3 linked regions of the Homo sapiens genome follow. The protein of the gene in region 3 interacts with the protein of the main gene of each other region in a pairwise test. Each region holds a gene or a part of one and is shown on either strand. Other genes may lie near its edges. The genes, in order: PKP2, ALMS1 and GTF2IRD1.

The links.
Region 1: the proteins of GTF2IRD1 (region 3) and PKP2 interact in a two-hybrid assay, tested with the Homo sapiens proteins (one study listed by BioGRID and IntAct).
Region 2: the proteins of GTF2IRD1 (region 3) and ALMS1 interact in a two-hybrid assay, tested with the Homo sapiens proteins (one study listed by BioGRID and IntAct).

What each region holds. Positions count from the first base shown.
Region 1 is NC_000012.12:32,886,690-32,893,798, reverse strand, and holds part of PKP2 (plakophilin-2), read left to right. Parts: intron 1-7,109. UniProt on the Homo sapiens protein: A component of desmosome cell-cell junctions which are required for positive regulation of cellular adhesion.
Region 2 is NC_000002.12:73,381,904-73,388,901, forward strand, and holds the start of ALMS1 (centrosome-associated protein ALMS1), read left to right. Parts: upstream 1-3,932; 5' UTR 3,933-3,965; coding exon 3,966-4,289; intron 4,290-6,998. UniProt on the Homo sapiens protein: Involved in PCM1-dependent intracellular transport. Required, directly or indirectly, for the localization of NCAPD2 to the proximal ends of centrioles.
Region 3 is NC_000007.14:74,512,868-74,519,976, reverse strand, and holds part of GTF2IRD1 (general transcription factor II-I repeat domain-containing protein 1), read right to left. Parts: coding exon 7,006-7,109; intron 4,633-7,005; coding exon of another isoform or gene 4,537-4,632; coding exon 4,381-4,536; intron 1,839-4,380; coding exon 1,655-1,838; intron 569-1,654; coding exon 258-568; intron 1-257. UniProt on the Homo sapiens protein: May be a transcription regulator involved in cell-cycle progression and skeletal muscle differentiation. May repress GTF2I transcriptional functions, by preventing its nuclear residency, or by inhibiting its transcriptional activation.

The sequences.
Region 1 (7,109 bases), on a different chromosome or scaffold from region 3:
ACAGAATGAATATTTCACAGTTCACAGAGTTGATATGGTAGAACAAAGGGCACTATCTTGGTCCTTCTGCTATAATGCTTGGGTCAACTACTTGACTGGCTGTTCCAACTAAGGAACAAAGCGTTTGAAATATTTTGATTGCAACAGCAGCTTTCCAGTAAGCTGAAATACACTCTGCAGCCTACACAGAAGTACAAATCAGACAGAGAGATAAGGCAGCAAACAACACCTACTTACTTTAAAGCCTCAGCTTTCTAAGACTCAAAAAGGAAATCAGCTTCAAAGGAATTTAACATTAGCATGCCATGAAACAATTACCAGGGGTGGTTCGTATGTATTGTTTAATTAAACTTCTTTGAAAAGGTCTGGGGGCTCGTGGTGGTTCTGAGTATAATTTTTATTATTTCCATGTTACTATCCTGTCTCTCAAGTTGAAACAGACAAGCAATTGTTGAAACAGTGCTGGTCTGGAAAAAATCCTGTATCAACACAAGAAATTCCAGGAAGAAAAGACCCTGATGTTAACTGCTATTAGCTCCAGGGCCCTGGAGAATTCTGAGTTGTTGACAAACCTGTAAGGTTGAGACAGCGGATAACCTGCTGAAAGCAGAGATGAGATAAATGTGGCTGATTTGTTGATAAGTATCTTGCAAGAGTCTTTAACCCTTTGTCTTCTTTCCAATGCCTTAGTATAGCTGGGTGGTTTTCATTGTAAATCACTCAGTGACTTTTGGTGTTATTTTTAACTGTGCTGAACATTTTAAAGTTGGCTGTAACTCTTTGGGAAGGGGCCTTCAGAGGTGTATAGCAGCATTGTGAAGTAAGTCTGTATTGTAGCTAATAGTTAAAATATTTTTCTAAAATAGAAGACATTTAAGAATTGCAAGTATTGGCAAAGGGAAAAATTAAAAGCATCCATATCCTATTTATTACACTTGCCTTAAAAGTACTACTTGCTACACAGTTCTCCCCCCCCCCCCGCCCCCACCCCAGGTATCTGAGTGGAGAGAAAATTGTGTTTTAAATTGTATTTACTACTTATAAAGGACAGTGAACAATCTCCTAATGCAATTATATTTACAACCTCTTTGGAAATCCACCACAAAACTTGAGGCACACTATTATCTTAGGTGATTTCCTTGGTGAAGCTGCTTTTCAATATCTGTGATCAAAGTGAATTCTGGGCTGGGCGCAGTGACTCATGCCTGTAGTCTCACCATTTTAGGAGGCCGAGACGGGTGGATTACCTGAGGTCAGGAGTTTGAGATCAGCCTGGCCAACATGGTGAAACCCTGTGTCTACTAAAAATAAAAAACAAATTAGCCAGGTGTGGTGGTGCATACCTGTAATCCCAGCTACTAGGGAGCCTGAGGCAGGAGAATTGCTTGAACCTGGGAGTCAGAGGTTTCAGTGAGCCAAGATCATGCCACTGCCTCCAGCCTGGGCGATGGAGTGAGACTCCATCTCAAAAAAAAAAAAAAAAGTGAATTCTGGAGAGAGAATTGAAAATTGGCTCAGGGTAGCAAAAGAAAGGTAGTTACTAGGCGCTACTGTTAAAAAAAAGTTAGACATTGTTCAAATTCTGCATAAATTCTTCCTTTGACAAAAAGGAATCCCAGGAATGAAGCAATTCTGGGGAGCAAGGTGACTAATCGTTCAGAAAGTAGGAGGGATCAGGAAAGGGAAAAAAAAGAGTGAGATGGCGGGTGGCAGGGTCATGGCCCTCTGCTCTGAATGTGAGGTGTCAGTAGCACACTGGATTAAATGCACCTCTGTGTCTGTGTAATATGGCCTGTGAGCCACTTTTTGTCCAGGGCCAAGCAGATTGAGTTCGGTAAGTCCAAAAATAATTAAAGAAATCCTTCTGATTATAGTAAGTGAAATAGAATGTTAACAAAATGGTAGTTAACAACAACAACAAAAAAAACTTCACACCCCTGGAAATGTTGAGAACACATCTCTTAGGGGTGAAGTTTTGTGTGAGGGTAAAGTAAGGATGCTTCAGAATCCGTGGAACTGTAAGAAACCACAAGTAGACCCAGAGTAGCAGGGTTTGATTATGAAAGTACATTGTTCTATATGTGACAGATAAGACGCAGGAAATTACCTTAAAGGAAGGAAGACTGTTCATTTAGGCTTTTAAAAGACTGTTGTTATCTGTATGCCCTGTGCTAAGAGTTCCACAGTCATGGGAACAGAGGGTAGCTTTTGTATTAAATATTCTAGGTATTTGTAGTTCACATTTCCTCAAAGTTTTAGATAGCAACTTTACAGTTTTTTCTCATTTATTAAAATAAGCCTATACATAGTTACATTATTTTATCTTCACATTTTAACATTGATTTTACCCTACAATTGAATTCCTAGTCTGATCAATACAAATTATTAAAAGTTTTGATTTTTTTTCTCTGAGAGAACAAGCATATTATTGGCAAACTATGATAGTAATGAAATATAATAAATATGATGCTAAAACCTCTGGAGTTTATAAATCAGATGATTAATATGGCCTATAAGATGATTTATTTCCATCTCAGATGACATTCAACAAGTTTAAATTATACAATTCTGAGACAAATGTTGGACTTCAGGTATCTTGTGCATGTCTACAAATATATGAAGATAAATACCCTACTTCTCCTGAGGAAGTAAATTAGCAGTAAAAGGCAGCAATGCAAGTGGGAATAGACAATAAATTAGGAGAAAACTTTATTTTTCTATTAGAGTGAGCCACCTGGCTCCCCTGACTAGTAGAGTAAGACTACTAAACAAACTATCAAGTGCTCTCATAATAAAAACATTAAAAACCTGTTGTGTGTCTTTTCTTTTCTTTTTTTTTTTTTTTTGTTTCGCTCTTGTTGCCCAGGCTGGAGTGCGGTGGTACGATCTCGGCTCACTGCAACCTCTGCCTCCCGAGTTCAAGCGATTTTCCTGCCTCAGCCTCCCGAGTAGCTGGGATTACAGGCACCCGCCACCAAGCCCAGCTAATTTTTTGTATTTTTAGTAGAGACAGGGTTTCACCATGTTGGCCAGGATGGTCTCGAACTCCTGACCTCAGGTGATCCGCCCACCTCTGCCTCCCAAAGTGCTGGGATCTCAGGCGTGAGCCACCGCACCCGGCCTGTGTATCTTTTCTATAATGCCATTTCTGGTAATTGGATATTGGACATAAAAACAGTTGTAATGTTCTTAAAGTGTTTAAAGACAAAAGCTTGAGAGCTCAATATGTAGATTTAAATAAAAATGGACAGTTGGAAAAAAAGAAACTTAAGCATTTGAAAACACAACCTGCCATTACTATTAAAATAATTCACATATTTATATTCTTGGAATAATCAGCTTTAGACTTAATAACATTCGTTAACCTAAGCAGTCATAATCAAAGTTCTGCAATTCCTTGATTTCCAGAATTTGTGGATGAAAACCTTCATTAGAAGCTTAATGGATTATTTTTTCTGAATCTCTCAGTAAGCTATTTATGGGGTGGGTGTGGGTGAGCATCAAGCTTATTGGATCTTGATTACTCTTTTTCATTGAAGAATGAAAACAAATGGGAACTTTTCTTGACAGATAATATGAATTTATAGGCCACCAAAATATTACAGATAAATACACAAGCCATACAGATAAAAGAATGATAGTAAACATATATTATTCAAATATAGAAACAACCTTGCCAAAATGAACAAAGTCAGCTTTTCTTTTTTTTTTTTTTTTTTTTTTTGAGATGGAGTCTCGCTCTATGCCCAGGCTGGAGTGCGGTGGCACAATCTCGGCTCACTGCAACCTCCGTCTCCTCGGGTTCAAGCGATTCTCCTGCCTCAGCCTCTCAAGTAAGTGGGATTACAGGTGTGTGCCACCACACCCGGCTAATTTTTGTATTTTTAGTAGAGATGGAGTTTCACCATGTTAGCCAGGATGGTCTCGATCTCCTGACCGATCCACCCGCCTCGGCCTCCCAAAGTGCTGGGATTACAGGCATGAGCCACTGCACCTGGCCCAAAGTCTGCTTTTCTAATAAAAGTCTGCCTACATTCTGGGGAAGCAACTTTCCTTCCTCTCCGTATACCCAGAATGACAGAGAACAGTCGAAACTATTTGAGCACCTTCCATCTACCCCAAGACAAAAGCATGTATGTGACTATCATACTCACATTTTAGTTCCATTCTGGTGAGCCACAGAATACATACCTGCCTGAATGATTAAGCGCAAACTGAATTTGTGTAACTAGGATATTTCTAATGTACAGGTAATCTGACTAATCAACAATTAACTTGTCAAGTACTGATACAAGACTGTGCTAGAAGTGGTAGTGTAAGATACAGTTCTTTCTGTCAAAATCTCTTTGGAAGAGAAAATAACCTCTTTGTTTTAACGTGGCCCCACTCCAATCCATTCTCCACACAGCTGCTAGAGTGAACTTTCTAAAATCTCATTGCATCATTTCCCAGTTTAAATTCCTTCAGTTTCTTACTGTTATCTGCAAGAGTAAAATTATTGAACACAGCATTCCAAGTTCTTCGTGATCTAATGCCTGCAACTTCTCAAACTTCATCCCTGGGGCCACTACCCTTGCTCCCCACCAAACACACACAGGCAGTTTATCTTGCTTGGTATTTCTACCCCTCCTTGTCTCCCTCCCTTCCTTCTCTTGCCCAGTTAACTTAGTTCAGTTGTGTCCCTTATAGGCAGCCTCCTTCACCCCTCTCCTCTGATCTTGAATGCAAGTTAAAGAATTTGATAATTGTGAGTCACAGATATTTCCACAGGGAAGAAACATGAAAAGTGCAGGAGTTTTGTGAAAATACATTTGACAGATTTGGTGGATTTAAAGTAGGAACAGACCTAGCATGGTGGCTCTTTCCTGTAATCCCAGCACTTTGAGAGGCCGAGACAGGAGAATCGCCTGAGGCCAGGAGTTCAAGGCTGCAGTGAGCTCTGAATGCACCACTGCACGCCAGCCTGGGCAACAGAGTGACCCTGTCTCAAAAAAAAAAAAAAAAGAGGCCGGGCGCAGTGGCTCACGCCTGTAATCCCAGCACTTTGGGAGGCTGAGGCGGGTGGATCATCTGAGGTCGGGAGTTTGAGACTAGCCTGATCAACATGGAGAAACCCTGTCTCTACTAAAAGTACAGAAAAAATAAGCTGGGCGTGGTGGCGCATGCCTGTAATCCCAGCTACTTGGGAGGCTGAGGCAGGAGAATCACTTGAACCCGGGAAGTGGAGGTTGCGGTGAGCCGAGATCGTGCCATTGCACTCCAGCCTGGGCAACAAGAGTGAAAATCTGTCTCAAAAAAAAAAAAAGAAAAAGAAAAGTTGGGTTAGCAGTTATGAATCAGTTGGGAGGGGTTAACCCTGGCACGTGAGAGGCAGGGGAAATATAATGACTTGAAAGTCATTACAAAGAAAACCTGTAGTAAGTATTTTAAAGCAAAAAATAATTTGTGAGTTCTATAAATTCACCTTTTTTTATATTATTGGGAGTATAATGTGATATTTGCCATGGAAGTTATAAAGTCTTACAAGTCTTAAAGTCTCATGAGATATCTCAGCAAATAATTGGCAGGAATGCCAAAGTAAAGACACAGTTACAGAAATGAACAGTGTATTCATTCATTCATTCATGAGACAGCGTCTGTCTCTGTTGCCCAGGCTGGAGTGCATCTTGGCTCACTGCAACCTCTGCCCCCCGGGCTCAAGCCATTCTCTCACCTCAGCCTCCTGAGTAGTTGGGACTACAGGTGTACGCCACCACACCCAGCTAATTTTTGTATTTTTTTTGTACAGATGGGGTTTTGCCTTTTTGCCCAGGCTGGTCTCAAATTCCTGGACTCAAGTGATCTGCCCACCTTGACCTCCCAAAGTGCTGGGATTACAGGCATGAGCCACCGTGCCTGGCTGAGAAATGAACAGATTTAGATACTTCCAGGATATTTCTATTTAATACTTCACCAGGATGCTAAATTACCAGTTTATAATAACAAATTCTACAATTACATATTCTAATACCTCAAACAAAATATGACATGAACACCTGTGATATAAAAGGGCCATTTAATGGCTCACGCCTAAAGCGCTGGCACTTTGGGAGCCCGAGGCGGGTAGAACTCTTGAGGCCAGGAGTTTGAGGCCAGCCTGGCCAACATGGCAAAACCCCATCTCTACTAAAAATACAAAAATTAGTCAGCATGGTGGCACACACCTGTAGTCCAGCTACTCGGAAGGCTGAGGCACAAGAATCGCTTGATCCTGAGAGGAAGAGGTTTCAGTGAGCCAAGATCGCACCGCTGCACTTCAGCCTGGGCGACAGAGCAAGACTCCATCTCAATAAAAAAAGTGGGAGGGGGACATTTAAAATGTGTTTTTGTCATTACCTAGAGCAGTGATTTGAGGATTGCCCCCCAAATGTCATAAATTGGTATATCAGAAGATAGCTCTTGAATTGCTTAGGGGGCTCCTGAAAAATAAGGACTCTAGTGGCTGGTATATCGTGTGAGTGATAACAGCAATGGATTAGTCAGTCGCACACTGGCATGTGGTATGTGTGGCCCACTCTTGCAGGAGAGCTGTTCTGTCCCTGGCATATTCAACGTTTTAAGAACTCATAGCCAGTACTTTCTAGCATATACCTGATACACCAAGTTGTTTCTCATGGTTGATTATGTGAGCTAACTGGTCACAAAATATAGCACTGTACAACTATTGGTTAAATTTTCAATAGTATAAAACTTTATTAGACTTTCATCTGCTTTGAAACAATTTTTCACCATAGTGTTCCCTTTTTTTTTTTCCTTTTTGAGACAGAGTCTTGCTTTCTGTCACCCAGCCTGGAGTGCAGTGGCCCAACCTCAGCTAACTGCAACTTCTGTCTCCAGGGCTCAAGCAATCCACCCACCTCAGCTTCCCAAGTAGCTGGGACTACAGGCCCATGCCACCATGCCCAGCTAATTTTTAAATTTTTAAAATTTTGTAGAGACGAGATCTCACTATATTGCCCAGGCTGGTCTCAAACTCTTGGACTCGAGTGATCCACCCACCTCAGCCTCCCCAAGTGCTAGGATTGCTAGTGTGAGCCACCCTGCCCAGCCAACTATAGTTTTCTAAACCA
Region 2 (6,998 bases), on a different chromosome or scaffold from region 3:
TATTCAGATTTTCACTATTGCTAAATTTATGCTGATCTGGAGGATGCAGTCTGTAGTTGGGTTAATTCCGCCTTCTGTTGTAGGATTTGTTGAATCATATGATATGACAATGGCTGTGCAGAAACTAGGGCTGTGGATAGGATACGTTGACCAAGTGCAAAAGAAGCAATTACCAGAAACAAAATGATTATCCATCTTTGTAAAAAGTCTTGAAGACAGGGACCCAGATTATAAAGTCCTGGCAATGAAAACATGCCCCAGAATCCAGCTGAGTCTGTTTTTAGGGAGCCAGGAGGATTTTCTCTTTTCAGTTTACTCATGTTCTACTGACTCTGTAGTATGTTCTACTGGCCCAGTAGTATGTGAGTATGGTGACAAGTGTTGCTAAATACAAACTCCTCCTTGGCCAGCTAAGAAGAAATCAAGGGTTATATAATTATCCATGAAAACTCTGGCTAAGGAATTCAAATTTAAGTGGTTTTCTGAGCTGCTATAGCAGAAGTTTTGCTATCTATGGGGTCTGCTAAGGTCAAATACCTCTCTTGGATCTGATCTCTTTCTGTTGTATTATCTTTGTTGTAGGAATTTCATTCACAGAGTACACATGAAAAATGAGTCAGTTATCCCTCCTGGGAGTTCTCCCAAGTAGTCTGTGATTGTGTGCTTGCTTCATTTTGTTGGTTTCTGGGTGTTCTTTTCAAAGAAACACAGTCTACTGGAGGGGTGGTAATTTTAAGCACTGGAGGGTCTCTAACAATTAGCTTCAATATAAAGGGTAAGTTAGTGGGCAAGCCAGATGTTCCCATAAATAAGTAGTACCCTAGGGGAGTACAGACTGCATTGGGAGGATAAGGGCTATTTAGCACATCAGGGACAAGCCAACTTTCTTTCCCTCAGGATAAGCAGATTTCTTGGATGAAGTTAAACAGGTTTCTCCAAAGCAGGCTGGAATGTTTTGGAAGAGAATGACCTGAGTAGTGTATAAAGAATAGCCCCAATATTAGTTTCTATTCCTGAAGGGCTAGGTTTTTCTCATAGGATTGTAATGACTTCAGGGAAACATTCTGTTGAAGTGTAGGTCAAGGTCCAATTTTTAGAAGACTGAGGTTTGGGATGAACTTTGTGGGGAATGCTTAAGTACCAGAAGTGACCTACAGAAGAAAATCTACTTGATGAAGTCTATGAAAGCACAGTTATTAAATTTTGTCAACAATTCCTTAAAAGCAGTAGCTACGGTTTGAGAAAAACACTCCAGAAAGTGTCTCTTTTCTTTTCTTTTTTTCCTTCCCTTTCCTTTCTCTTTCCCTTTCCCCTTTCCCCTCCTTTCCTTTCCTTTCTCTTTCTCTCTTCTCCCTTTCTCTCTTTCTTTTTTAGATTGGGTTTCACTTTGTTGCCCATTGGCACGATCACAGCTCACTGCAGTCTTGGACTCCTGAGCTTCAAGGACCCTCTTGCCTCAGCCTCCTGAGTAGCTGGGACTCCAGATACGTGCCACCATGCCCAGCTAATTTTTTATTGTTTTTAGAGATGGGGGTCTTGCTACATTGCCTACGTTAGTTAGACTCCTGGTCTCAAGTGATCTTCCCACCTTGGCTTTCTAAAGTGCTGGAATTACAGGTATGACCCACTGCACCTGGCCAAATAATGTTTACTTTAAGTAGTAGAACATAGGGAGTCAAAAGTAACAGGATGAAGATAAGGGTTATCTCCCCGAGAAATCAATTTGTTAGTTAATCAAGGGTGTCAAAATGCAATAAGCAAGATTAGTGGTAGGGTAAGAGATGCCAAGGAATCAGAAATTAATCTTGTCCTGTTGTCTTGGGTATAAACTGCCCATTTCTGCAGTAAGCAGCTTCTGGGGAAGTCCCAGGAATCTTCAGTTTGAGGTCTTCCAATAGTATGGGATGTCCGGTAGCCAGGAGAAAATGATGCATGTCTTTTTAGTTGTGTAATATGAATCCAGGGATCAATGTCTTCTAGTTTTACTCCTGGGTCAGTTGTTGATAGTACCTGACATTTTTTTTTCTTGCATTGAGGCTCAAGGGAAATTGTTTTCTAATGCTTTTTCAGAAGACCAAATCTCTAACTTCAGAAGCTGCTTAGGTGGGTGCTTTGAGAATGCAGCTTCCATCTGTTGTTGATAAAGCAGGAGTTAATCTTAGAAGTCTCCTGCAGCAATTAGTGATAACAGCTTATATTAGTAGCATCTAGTATTGGAAGTAATTCACAAATACATGAGGAAGCCTGTTATTAACTCAGAAGGAGATAACTTATGGGCCTTAGAATGGACTGACCTTATTGCCATCAAGGCAAATAGAAGTACTTTGGGCTTTGGAAGTTAGATGGAAGTTAGAGAACTTTGAAAGCTATTTTTTAGAATTCTATTAGTTCTCTTTATCTTTCCTGAAATTTGTGGATGCAAAAAGATAGCGGAGTTTCTAAAAAGGTAAAGCTTTACAGTTATTTAATATCAGTGAAATGTGTGTCCTCTTACTGGAGATAAACATTGAGATTTCACATTCAGGAATACAAAATTAATAAATTCTTTTCTACTATTACAGTAATAGGTCTCCGGCAAGGAGAACCCCTAAACCCCTTAAGAATAAATAACCCTAATGTACTCATAGTCCATTTAGAGGTGTTCAACAGAACTCCAAGACTGGGCTCCAGTTCATGTTCTACCCTTAAAGTTTTGCCAGGATTGGGTCATTGACAGGTAGGCAGGACATACATCCTTGGCAATAACCCTAAAATTGCCCCACCAACATTGGTTCAGCATCATTATCAATGTATCTCTACTATTGTGGGTAATACCATGAAGACTTTTTGCTGGACTCCACTTTAATTATGGCTATTTCCTTTGGTAACAGTGAAGCATCTCAAGATTATAATTATTATTTAAAATTTTAATTTAAAAATTTTCCCCATAGGTTATTGGGGGTACAGGTGGTGTCTGGTTACATGGCATCTTAAGATACTTTAATTTGCCATTCATTTCGTAGAGGTTCCTGAAGCGGTCAGGAAATCTTTGTTTTTAAAGCACTCCAAAGTCATTGACGAACCACCAAAACATATGTACTATCAGTATAAATATTTGCTCTGTTATCCTTTAACAGCTGGTTGGTCTAGGCCAGGGCAATTCCTACACTAACAGAGGACCTGGGATGGCATACTGAGTCAGCCACTTACTAGGTAAGAAACTTTGGGCAAATTAATTTTTTTAGCCTCAGATTCTTCATACATGAAATAGTAATACTTGTCTCACAGAACCGTGAGCATCTAATGAGTTATTGTACAATAACCAACCTATCACTAAGTCCTTCACATTGATTATTTCCTTTAATTATCACACCCATCCTATGCGATGGCCTATTATCATCGTTTTATAAACACAAAGTCACACCACTTTAAGTGGTGATGCCAGGATTCAAACTCCGATCTTTCTGATGCCAGTGCCCAGTTCTTAATCCCTCTAACAACCCGTGACACTTTTCCACGGTTAGGTTCAAGCGCCCACCATACAGCTTGACACTTTAGGAGATACTCAACCTTTAAAACTTTATAATTTGCATGTGTGATTATAACGGGTACGTCCTAGAGTTTGATCTCTTCTCTGTGCAGGGGCGAAACTCGACCCCAGCCGAGAACTACACTGTCCTTGCGCGGGGCCCTCTGCGCCCCGGAAGGCGCCCAGTCCCGGTTTATTGTGAGCTTACAGTACAGTTCGCAAGGTCCCGGCCGGTGACGGCGGCGAGGCGGCAACGTCGCCTGTAGCAAACCTCCGCCCTAAGGCGTTCCCGCCGGGCCTCGCGCGGCGTCCCTAGCAACGCGCGCGCGGTCTTCCGGCCCCGCCCAGGCGGGCGGCACTGCGCCTAAGCTGGGCCACAACCGCCAGTCAGGGCTCTCCCCTTCCCCTCCCTCCCCCCCTCCTCCTCCTCCTCTGCCGCCCAGAGCGAGACACCAACATGGAGCCCGAGGATCTGCCATGGCCGGGCGAGCTGGAGGAGGAGGAGGAGGAGGAGGAGGAGGAGGAGGAGGAAGAGGAGGAGGCTGCAGCGGCGGCGGCGGCGAACGTGGACGACGTAGTGGTCGTGGAGGAGGTGGAGGAAGAGGCGGGGCGGGAGTTGGACTCCGACTCTCACTACGGGCCCCAGCATCTGGAAAGTATAGACGACGAGGAGGACGAGGAGGCCAAGGCCTGGCTGCAGGCGCACCCCGGCAGGATTTTGCCTCCGCTGTCGCCCCCGCAGCACCGCTACTCGGAGGGCGAGCGGACCTCCCTGGAGAAGGTGAGGCGGGCCGGGGAGGGGTGTGGAGCCGCGGCGAGTTGGGGGTGGAGGCTGGGCCCCGAGCGCTCCGCCCGCCCGCAGGTCACGCCGCCTGACGGAGAAAACGCGCGCAGCTGAGGCTAGTAGGCGGCCCAGACTCCAGCCCAGGTGCCGGCCGGCTGCTCCGCGTCTCCCAGGCTTTGTGGCAAAGACTTCTCGTTTCCTCCCCCTCGGTGGGTCCTGGGCCTTTTGAACTCCCGTAGACGTTCAGGGGAGCCTGCATTCCCCGTGAGAAACGCTGAGAGAGGACCACGGGTGTGTCGAGCCTTGAAGGAGGGAAAAGGCGGTGTAGGACCGGAGCGAGTGGTTGCCTGGGGAGCATCTTGTTGGGGAGACAGTGAACAGATGAGCTTGACTGAATTGCAGGACTCCCCTGAGGGAGTAATGTGGATAATGTACACCGCGCGATCACTTAGTCTGGAGAGGCTCCCCGCGGGTTTTCCTCCCCTGGACCATCATTTGTAGCAATAAAGGGGTTCCCCAGCCGATAGGAGGGGCTTGGAATGCAGGAGGCTTGTGATGCGGCTCCAAACAGTCTGCAAAACTACAAAGCACAGATAATACACAATGGAGAAAGCCGATTTCATGGTAGACCCCCGAAGATCATTTTGAAAATAACTCTCCATTTAATTTGCTGCCCTTACCCCCCTTTTTTTAACTTACTGCTTTTCGAGGAGCAAGACCTGCCCTGCTCAGTACAGTAGCCACTGGCCACGTGTGGCTTTTTACATCTTAAAGAGAAAACTATTATAGTTTTGAGTAAGAGTTAAAAATAAATTAAATGAAAAATTCCATGCGTCTGTTCTTACCGGTTTTCAAGTGCTCAGCAGCCACACTAGGCTAGTGGCTACCATGTTGGACAGAGCAGATAATGGAACAGTTCCATCATCACAGACAGTGAAGGTGTAGAGTTTTGTCACTAATGAGCAGTAGTTGTTGTTTTGTCTGGTGAATATTCCAGGGGGTACTTAATTCATTGAACATGTATTATTAGAATTCACCATGTGCCACACATTGTGCTGGGTGCTAAGGAAAGCTTGGTGAACCCAAACATTTTTGGTCTCTGCCTTCCTTGTGTTCATGGTCTAGACAGGGAGGCAGACAGATTTCAGATGATCACATAAAGTGAAACTAATATATGTGCTAATATTCTATGAAAGCATAAAGTAAGATAATCTGGCCTTGTCAGTGAAGTTGGGAAAGCCTTCTTGAGGAGGTTATGATAGAGCTGATATCTGAAGACAGTTTAAGGTTAATCAGGCAAAGGGGAGGGAAAGAGCCGTCTAGCTGAGGGAAAAACACATGAAAAGGTACTGTTGATGAGAGAGAGCATGGCATTTTCCAGGACCCAGAAGCCAACGTGGTTTGAGCACAGACTGCAAGGCTTTGTGTGCTATGCCAAGGATTTAGGGGCTTTATCTCTGGAGCTTTGGGGAGTTGAAGAAAATATTTGAAACGAGGGGATGTATGATAAGTTAGGTGTTTCAGAAAGGTCAGGTGTATAGCAGAGTGTGGAACAGCTGTGATAGCAAGGTGGGATGGGGAGCAGTAGCCATAGGTCAAGGGCATAAATTAGGAGACCATTGCAGCATTGCCCGGCAAAAGATGATGAAAGTTTGGAATAGGGAAGTGTTGGTGGATACAGGGAAAAGTGGACTGATTTGAGAGATATTTAAGAGGCAAAATCATCATACTTAATAACGGATGGGATGTGAAAGGTGAAGTAGCCAGGTGTTAGGTTATTGTTTGAATGGTTGTGCCAATATTAAGATATGGCCAGATTTATGGTGGAGGTGGTGGCTGTGAGTGGGTGGTGGAATTGGTTGGGTGAGTCTTAAGATTATGAGTTTGGTTTTGAAGATTGAAGGAGAAGGCTGGGCTAGAGATTTCAAGTTGTAAGTCATTTACATAGAGACCATAATTAAAGCCACACTTGTTGACTAGGTCTTCTAACTTTTATTTTGTCCTGTGACTTCTTGCTTGAATAACTATTAATATTCAAACTTTATCTTGAAGCCTAGAGGAGGAGTTTTTTAAACAAAATTTTAATTTAATTTTAGATTTGGGGGTACATATGCACGTAATTAACATGGATATATTGCATAATGGTGAGGTTTGGGCTTCTAGTGAACCTCTCACCCAAATAATATACCTTTGTACGTGATAGTGTAACATTGTACTTGATAGGTAATTTTTCAGCCCTTCTCTCCTCCTTCTGGAGCCCCCAGTGTCTGTTTATTTCCATCTTTATGTCTGTGGGTACTTATTGTACCCATTTATCTTTATGCCTCTGTGTACCCATTGTACCCACTTGTCTTACCAGTGAGAGCATGTGGTATTTGATTTTCTGTTTCTGAATTGTTTCACTTGATAAATAGCCTCCAGGCTCCATCCATGTTGCTGCAAAGGACAGGATTTCATTCTGTTTATAGCTGCATAATATTCCACAATGTATATTAATACATACTACATTTTCTTTACCCATTCAGTTGTTGATGGACACTTAGGTTGATTTCATGACTTTGCTATTGTGAACGGTGCTGTGATAAACATATGAGCACAGATTTTTTTCTTTTTTTTTAATGGCGTCTAGCTGGTGTAGAACACCTGGGCTCAAGTGATACTCCGCCTTGGCTTCCCAAAGTGCTGGGATTACAGGTGTGAGCCAGT
Region 3 (7,109 bases):
CTGGGACCCAGGGAGTCCTCGCAGGCGTCCTCTTAGTCCAAGGCCAAGGACATCATTCACAGATGGCTGAGCAGAGACCCAAGGTCCAAGGGGGTCTCAGCCAGGACACCATCTGTCCAGTCCCACTCCCATGCCCAGACATGGCTCCTTCCAACCTAAGAGGGCCCAGGCATCCTGACCTGCCCTGGGAGGCTGTCCCCTGCATGAGTGACCTCTGTCCCACCCCCTAGACTTGGAGATCCCAGCAGCAATGTTACCACAACAGTCGGAGAAGTCTTGGGCACCGGTGGCCTTGGGCTCTGGCATGGGCCGACTCAGGCCCAGGTCGCTGGGGGCAAGGGGGCAGGAAGGTGCTTCCTGCTTGAGCTCTCGGATGGCGTGGTTGGGGAGCGCCGTGCTGTACAGGAAGCTGGCCATGGAGGAGGAGGTGGCGGTTGGGGGCAGGTCCTGGGGTGGCACCTTGGGGGCCTGGCCATGCAGGCCACAGTCCCGTGACCCCTTGGGAATCAGGGAGACACCGTTCAGCTCCACCAGGGCCTTCGAGTCCCGCCCGCCATCCTCAAGTGGCCTGAGTAAAGGAGAGGACACATGGACAGCTTTGTACATCTGTTTCACACATTGCAGCTCTTCCCCCGAAAACCCCGCATCCCTGCCCTCTGCAGAACATAACAGCCCCATGAGGAGGGCAGGACAGGAGCTGCTCTTCCACTTCACAAGTGGGGATGCAGGCTCGGAGGTGGGAATGGTGTGCCCAGGGCCACAGAGCTAGGCCACCGGAGGACCTGGGCCCTGCCCCTCTGCTCCAATCCACTGTTCAGATCCCGCCAGGTGCGGTTGATTGCCTCCTGTCTCCTGCTGCACCCCTCCCCTTCCTGCCTCTGCATTGCCTGGGGCACTTAGCAGAGATGGGTTCAACCTTAAGCCCTCAGGCTGCCTTCTTGGCTCTCCTGACAACTGGTACTGCCTCAGACCAGCCTCAACAACCTAATCTCCCCTGGATCCCTAATTAACCCCAGATTTACAACCTGAGCAAGCACAGGACATGGTTCTCCCGTTTCTGACACCTAAAATGCCATATTTTTTTTTTAAGAGATGGGGTCTTGCTCTGTTGCCCATGCTGGAGTGCAGTGACGCAATCACAGCTCACTGCATCCTCAAACTCCTGGGCTCAAGCAAGCCTCCTGCCTCAGCCTCCTGAACAGCTGAGATGACAGGTGTGCACCACCACACCTGGGTAATTTTTTTTATTTTTATTTTTTGGCAGAGACAGGGTCTTGGTATGTTGCCCAGGCTGGTCTTGAACTCCTGGCCTCAAGTGATCCTCCCACCTCAGCCTCCCAAAGTGCTGAGATTACAGGCATGAGCTACTGTACCCGACCACTTTGGTGCTATTTTGTCCCAAGTCATGTCTCTTCAAGTCTCTCTGCAATGCAACTTCCCTGGGAAGACTTCAAGGCTTAATGACCTGGCTCAGATCCTGTTCTATGACTTCGCTTTCACTTCACCTCCACCATCAGACTGGGAGCTTTCACCACCAGGGTCCCCCACGGGCATCTCAAGTCCCTTCCCCTCTGGCTAAGTGGCCTCCAGCCCCCGGCCCTGACCCGGCCCTGGCCCAGCCCCAGCCCAGCCCCGGGCCGGCTACCTCACTCACCTCTTGAGCTTGAAGCGGATGCGGTGGCTGTGTTCCAGGATGGCCATGAGGGCCTTGGGGTCATACTCGGCTGGCCTTCGGAAGGCCAGGCCTTCGGGCAGCCCCTGCACGGCCAGCAGCCCTGGCTCCCTGAGCAGCCTCTCATAGGGCAGTGGCACCACACTGGCCCTTCCCAGGGCCTCGCCTGTAGGGGAGAGTCCAGGAGAGGGGCCTGGTATGAGAGGGCAGCCAGGCTGGGGTCGGGGCTGCTGTGCCCCAGAGTGGGGGCAGTGCTGAGTGGCTCCCCTTGGTGCGGGGTTCCCATGGACCCCTCATAACTGCAGACTTTGTGCAGAATAACCGCCTGCAGGCTGGGGGTGGGTGGTGTGGACAAGGCCCAATTGTCTGCATCTGGGGGGCTGGGGCTCCCCCACCAAGCAGGTTCCCTGCTGCCCTCCCCGACCAAGCCCCTCTCCACTCTGGGCACCTGGCTGGAGGGGAAATCGGGGACTCAAGGGCCCAGAGGACAGAGCAGAGGCAGACAATCCGGTAGGAGAAAAGAGGGCAGAAGAGACGGAGAAGTGGGGACTTGCATGAGCCAGGCTGCAAGGAAAAAGCTATAAGGGCTGGGCGTGGTGGCTCACGCCTGTCATCCCAGCATTTTGGGAGGCTGAGGAGGGAGGATCACTTGAGGCCAGGAGTTCGAGACCAGCCTGGCCAACATGATGAAACCCCGTCTCTACTAAAAATACAAAAATTAGCTGGGTGTGGTGGTGCATGCCTGTAATCCCAGCTACTTGGGAGGCTGAGGCAGGAGAATCGCTTGAACCCGGGAGGTGGGTTGCAGTGAGCCGCTGCACTCCAGCCTGGGTAACAGAACGAGAATCCATCTCAAAAAAAAAAAAAAAAAAAAAAAGGTGTAGGGAGGAAGGGAGAGAGACCGAGAGGGGGGAGAGAAAGTAAGAAGAAGAGGAAGTGGAGAGGGAGCAAAAATAGGGGATTGAGAAAAAGATGGGAGAGGCTGGGCGTGGTGGCTCACGCCTGTAATCCCAGCACTTTGGGATTACCGAGGCAGGTGGATCACTTGAGGTCAGGAGTTTGAGACCAGCCTGGCCAACATGGTGAAACCCCGTCTCTACTAAAAATATAAAAATTATCCAGGTGTGGTGGCAGGTGCCTGTAATCCCAGCTACTCAGGAGGCTGAGGCAGGAGAATTGCTTGAACCCAGGAGGGGGAGGTTGTAATGAGCCGAGATCATGCCATTGCACTCCAGCCTGGGCAACAGAGTGAAACTTCATCTCAAAACAACAACAACAACAACAACAACAACAACAACAACAAAGACAGGAGAGAGGAGAAAGAGACAGACTGAGAAGACGCAGGAACAAAGATGGGGGCTCGGGGGCACAGAGGAGGGGAGGCAGGCTGGGGACTGAGGACTGGGCACTGGGATATCTGTTGTCACCTCCATGCTACAGCCCCCACCCTGAGCCAGAAAGAGGCCCATCCTCTCATAGCCTCCTTGAATTCTGCCCAAAGTGGACAAGGGGGGCCAGGGCAAGGCGGGCAGGGGCGCGGGGCCCTGCAGCTGGCAAAAGTGTCGACAGAGGCACAGCCAACCATGCGTGGCAAGTCCCCCATCCCAGGGTGGCCAGTGTGACCACCCAGGGCCTCTGGGTACCCCTCCTTCTGACATAAGAACAGCAGAAGTTTCCTCACAGACCTTTGCTCCATAAAACCAAAGGCTACAGTAGGAGAAGGGATAAAGCCAAATCAGAAATGAATGAGGTGGGACCCTGAGCACCAAAGGGACCTGCCCGATGTTTCCCAGGGCGTGTGAAGACCACCACTGGGGCCCTGAGGCCCTCTGCAACCTGACGCTTCCCAAGGGAGGCCAGGTCTCCTCTTCCTGCAGGAAAGACATGGCTGAGCAATCAGCCTTCACTTAGTCATTCAACAAACATTCTCCAAGCACCTGCTGTTGCTGGGCTCTGAACTGTAGGCTGGAGACAGCTAGAAAGGGCAGACACAGCCCCTGACTCTGGAGAGCTCTTGGGCTGGAGAGGGGACAGGGCACTGTGGGTGCCAAGAGAGGGGCCTAAACCCACTGTGAGGGGGCTTCCAGGAGCAGAGCCTCAGTGCCACGCAGGTGTCTGCCAGACACAGGAGGGGAAAGGCAGTCTCAAAAGATGTAACAGCGCGAAGTCCAGGGCATGTGAAATGCACCAGCGAGTGCTGGAGAACTGGAAGTGGTTCTGTAGAGAGGTCAGTAGGGCCCTGTCACCTAGTGGGAGAAGAAGGTGTGGAGGGGATGAGGATGGGTGTGTGGGCCCCTGTGCCATGCTCAGGGTGATGGGGAGCCCCCGAAGGCTGTGGAGAGAAGAGCTTCATTAATGATCAGACTTGTGCTTTGAGAAGATACCCTTGGTTGCAGGGCAGGTGTAGAGAGCTGGTCTGGAAGCAGGGAGACCGTGGCAAGCCTGGGGCTATTTCTAGGCGAGAGGTGGCAGTGACTTGAGCCAGGGCAGGGACAGTAGGGGTGGAGGTTTGGAAAACGGCTGGAGCAGAACTTCTGTGTCTGGGAATGCAGAGATGAGGAAGGGCTGGGGTAGCCAGTAGCCCCATGCCTTGGGGTCCGGCTTTGCCCAGGGCCCATAGTGGGACAGGAGGGGGCCCCCTCTGCTGGGTGGGGACCGAGGCTCCCACCCTCCCTGGGGCCCCCAAATGGAATGAGGAAGGATCTTACTATAAAGAACATCAAACACCTCCTCTACCATCTTCCGCAGAAGGTACACATCTGAGCCATGTTCCAGGGAGGACCGAGGGAGGCTACGGCCTCCACCCTCGCCCCGCTGCACCTTCTTGGGGTGCTCTGCCTCCGGATCCTTCCACGGGGGCCCTCCTGTGGGACACAGAGCACGCGAGGCCACAGTGAGCACCCGTCTCACCACCCGGCCTTCGAGCTGGGATGTCGCTGCCCTGTGCTGAGCTGCGGAGACTGGCACACAATGTGATACACAAGTGAATGAATGAATGAAGAATTAATGAGTGAGCAAGCCCTATTCCAACCACCCCACTGAGGGCCAGGGCTGGTCATCTCAGAGTTCCCAGGGCTGGGCCTCACCTCTGGTCACCTCTAATTTGCTGTGTGACCTTGGGTTAGTCCCTTCTCTCTCTGAGCCTCAGTCTGTGAATGTTCACGGGAGGCCAGCTATTCCAGCTCAGAACTGAGGTTCGATGAATGTTCCATCTGTGTCTTTCTATTTTTTTTTTTTTTTTTTTTTTTGAGACAGAGTCTCGCTCTGTTGCCCAGGCTGGAGTGCAGTGGCACAAGCTTGGCTCACTACAACCTCCACCTCCAGGGTTCAAGTGATTCTCCTGCCTCAGCCTCCCGAGTAGCTGGGATTATAGGCGCCTGCCACCTTACCCAGCTAATTTTTGTATTTTTAGTAGAGATGGGGTCTCACCATGTTGGCCAGGCTGGTCTCGAACTCCTGACCAAAGTGCTGGGATTACAGGTGTGAGCTACCATGCCCGGCCCCATCCATGCCTTTCTGTGCTCTGACACGAACACTGTCTTGACCAATCTATGCCACCGTTTTCTGCTCTGCCGGAGGGAGAGAAAACCCTCCGGCAGAGGGTTGGGAGGCACCCCCCAACCCCTGCTCCAAGGAGGCCGTGGGTTGCAAACAGCAGGTTCATGCCAGGCTGGGCCAGGGTGGGGACCGGAGAGTGTTGGTGGATCCTTGGGGAATGTTCTAGAAGCTGCATTGGAAAGGAGATGAGAGGAGGGGCCTGCGGCCCCCTCCCAGCTTGGAGCCTATTCTCCTCTGGGATCTGCGGAGCTTGAAATAAACCAGCCGAGTTCCTGGTGCTATAAATAGCGGCTCTGCGTGGCTCTAGAAGGCAGGTGCACCGCCTCAGGCTCTGGGCGGCTGGGGTGCCACACGACCTGCTGCTGTCCATTCTACCCGGCCCAGTCCCCCATCCTGGCCCTGGAGAAGGTCTAGGCTCTGAGGGCTGAGGGGGGTGGGGGGCTGGCTGGGGATGCGGCTGCACCCCAGTAATGCTAGGCCCAGCGCTGGGGGATGCCCTTCCCTGAAACAGCTGATCTTAGGGGTGTGAGGTGAATACTAATAATAGTAACAACAGCTGGTGTCTATTGAGTGTGAACCAAGTGCCAGACACTGCCCTAAGTGCTTGCAAGGTACCAATTCGTTTAACCCTCAGACCCACCCGTCCTCCCCTTTCACAGATGAGTGGGTTGAGGCACAGCAGTTGTGGACCCAGGCGGCCCGTTCTCTTAACCTCATGCTATACCATGGTTCTTTTGAGATGGGGACTCACTGTCACCCAGGCTGGAGTGCAGGGGTGCCATCGTAGCTCACTGTAGTCTTGAACTCCCAGGCTCAAGTGATCCTCCTGCCTCAGCCTCTCAAGCAGCTGGGACTACAGGTGTACACCATCAAGCCTGGTTAATTTTTAAATTTTTTGTAGAGACAGAGGCCTTGCTATGTTGCCCAGCCTGGTCTCCAACTCCTGGGCTCAAGTGATCCTCCCATTTCAGCCTCCCGAAGTGCTAGGACTACAGACATGAGCCACTGCACCTGGCCTAAGATGTTAACCCTGACTATAGCCATGACAGTGCCTGCCCCCTCAGGTTGATGTCAGGGTAGGTGAGTTAGCATCAGAAAAGATGCTATGTACAGCAGGCATTCAATAAATCTTATTGGAACATGGCCAGGCATGGCGGCTCACATCTGTAATCCCAGCACTTTGGGAGGCTGAGGTGGGCGGGTCACCTGAGGTCAGGAGTTCGAGACCAGCCTGGCCAACAAGGTGAAACCCCGTCTCTACTAAAAATACAAAATTAGTTGGGCGTGGTGGTAGGTGCCTGTAATCCCAGCTGCTCGGGAAGCTGAGGCAGGAGAATCACTTGAACCTGGGAGGCAGAGGTTGCAGTGAGCCAAAATTGTGCCACTGCACTCCAGCCTGGGTGACAGGGCAAGACTCTGTCTCATTTAAAGAAAAAAAAAATTGTGTTGGCATAAGTGCATTTGGTCCTTGTGTTCAGGAATACATAGTTAAGAGGAAGAACTGAGCAGCAGCCTTGGCCTTGGTGTCCCCATCTGGAAAAGGCAGATGGAAGTGGCTGGCTCTGGCCTACCCTGGGGTTCACCCAGCCAGTCTCTATCAACTCAGGGGCTGCCTCAATAACACCACATCGGGAATCTCAGACAACCTAGCTTGTTAGGTTCACTCCCCACACACCGCCACCCTGGCTAGACAGGGTTGGGGACCCAGAGATGGGCTAGAGCGCCTGCCCTCGGGAAATGGCGGGCCCGGCCCTCCGGAGCCCTGGGGTACTCACGGCAGAACCTGAGGAAGTCTGACTGTAGCTCCTTCCGGGCATTCAGGAACATTCTCCCCTTCTCTGTGCCCACCACAAAGGCGCTCTCATCGTGCACGGCGACA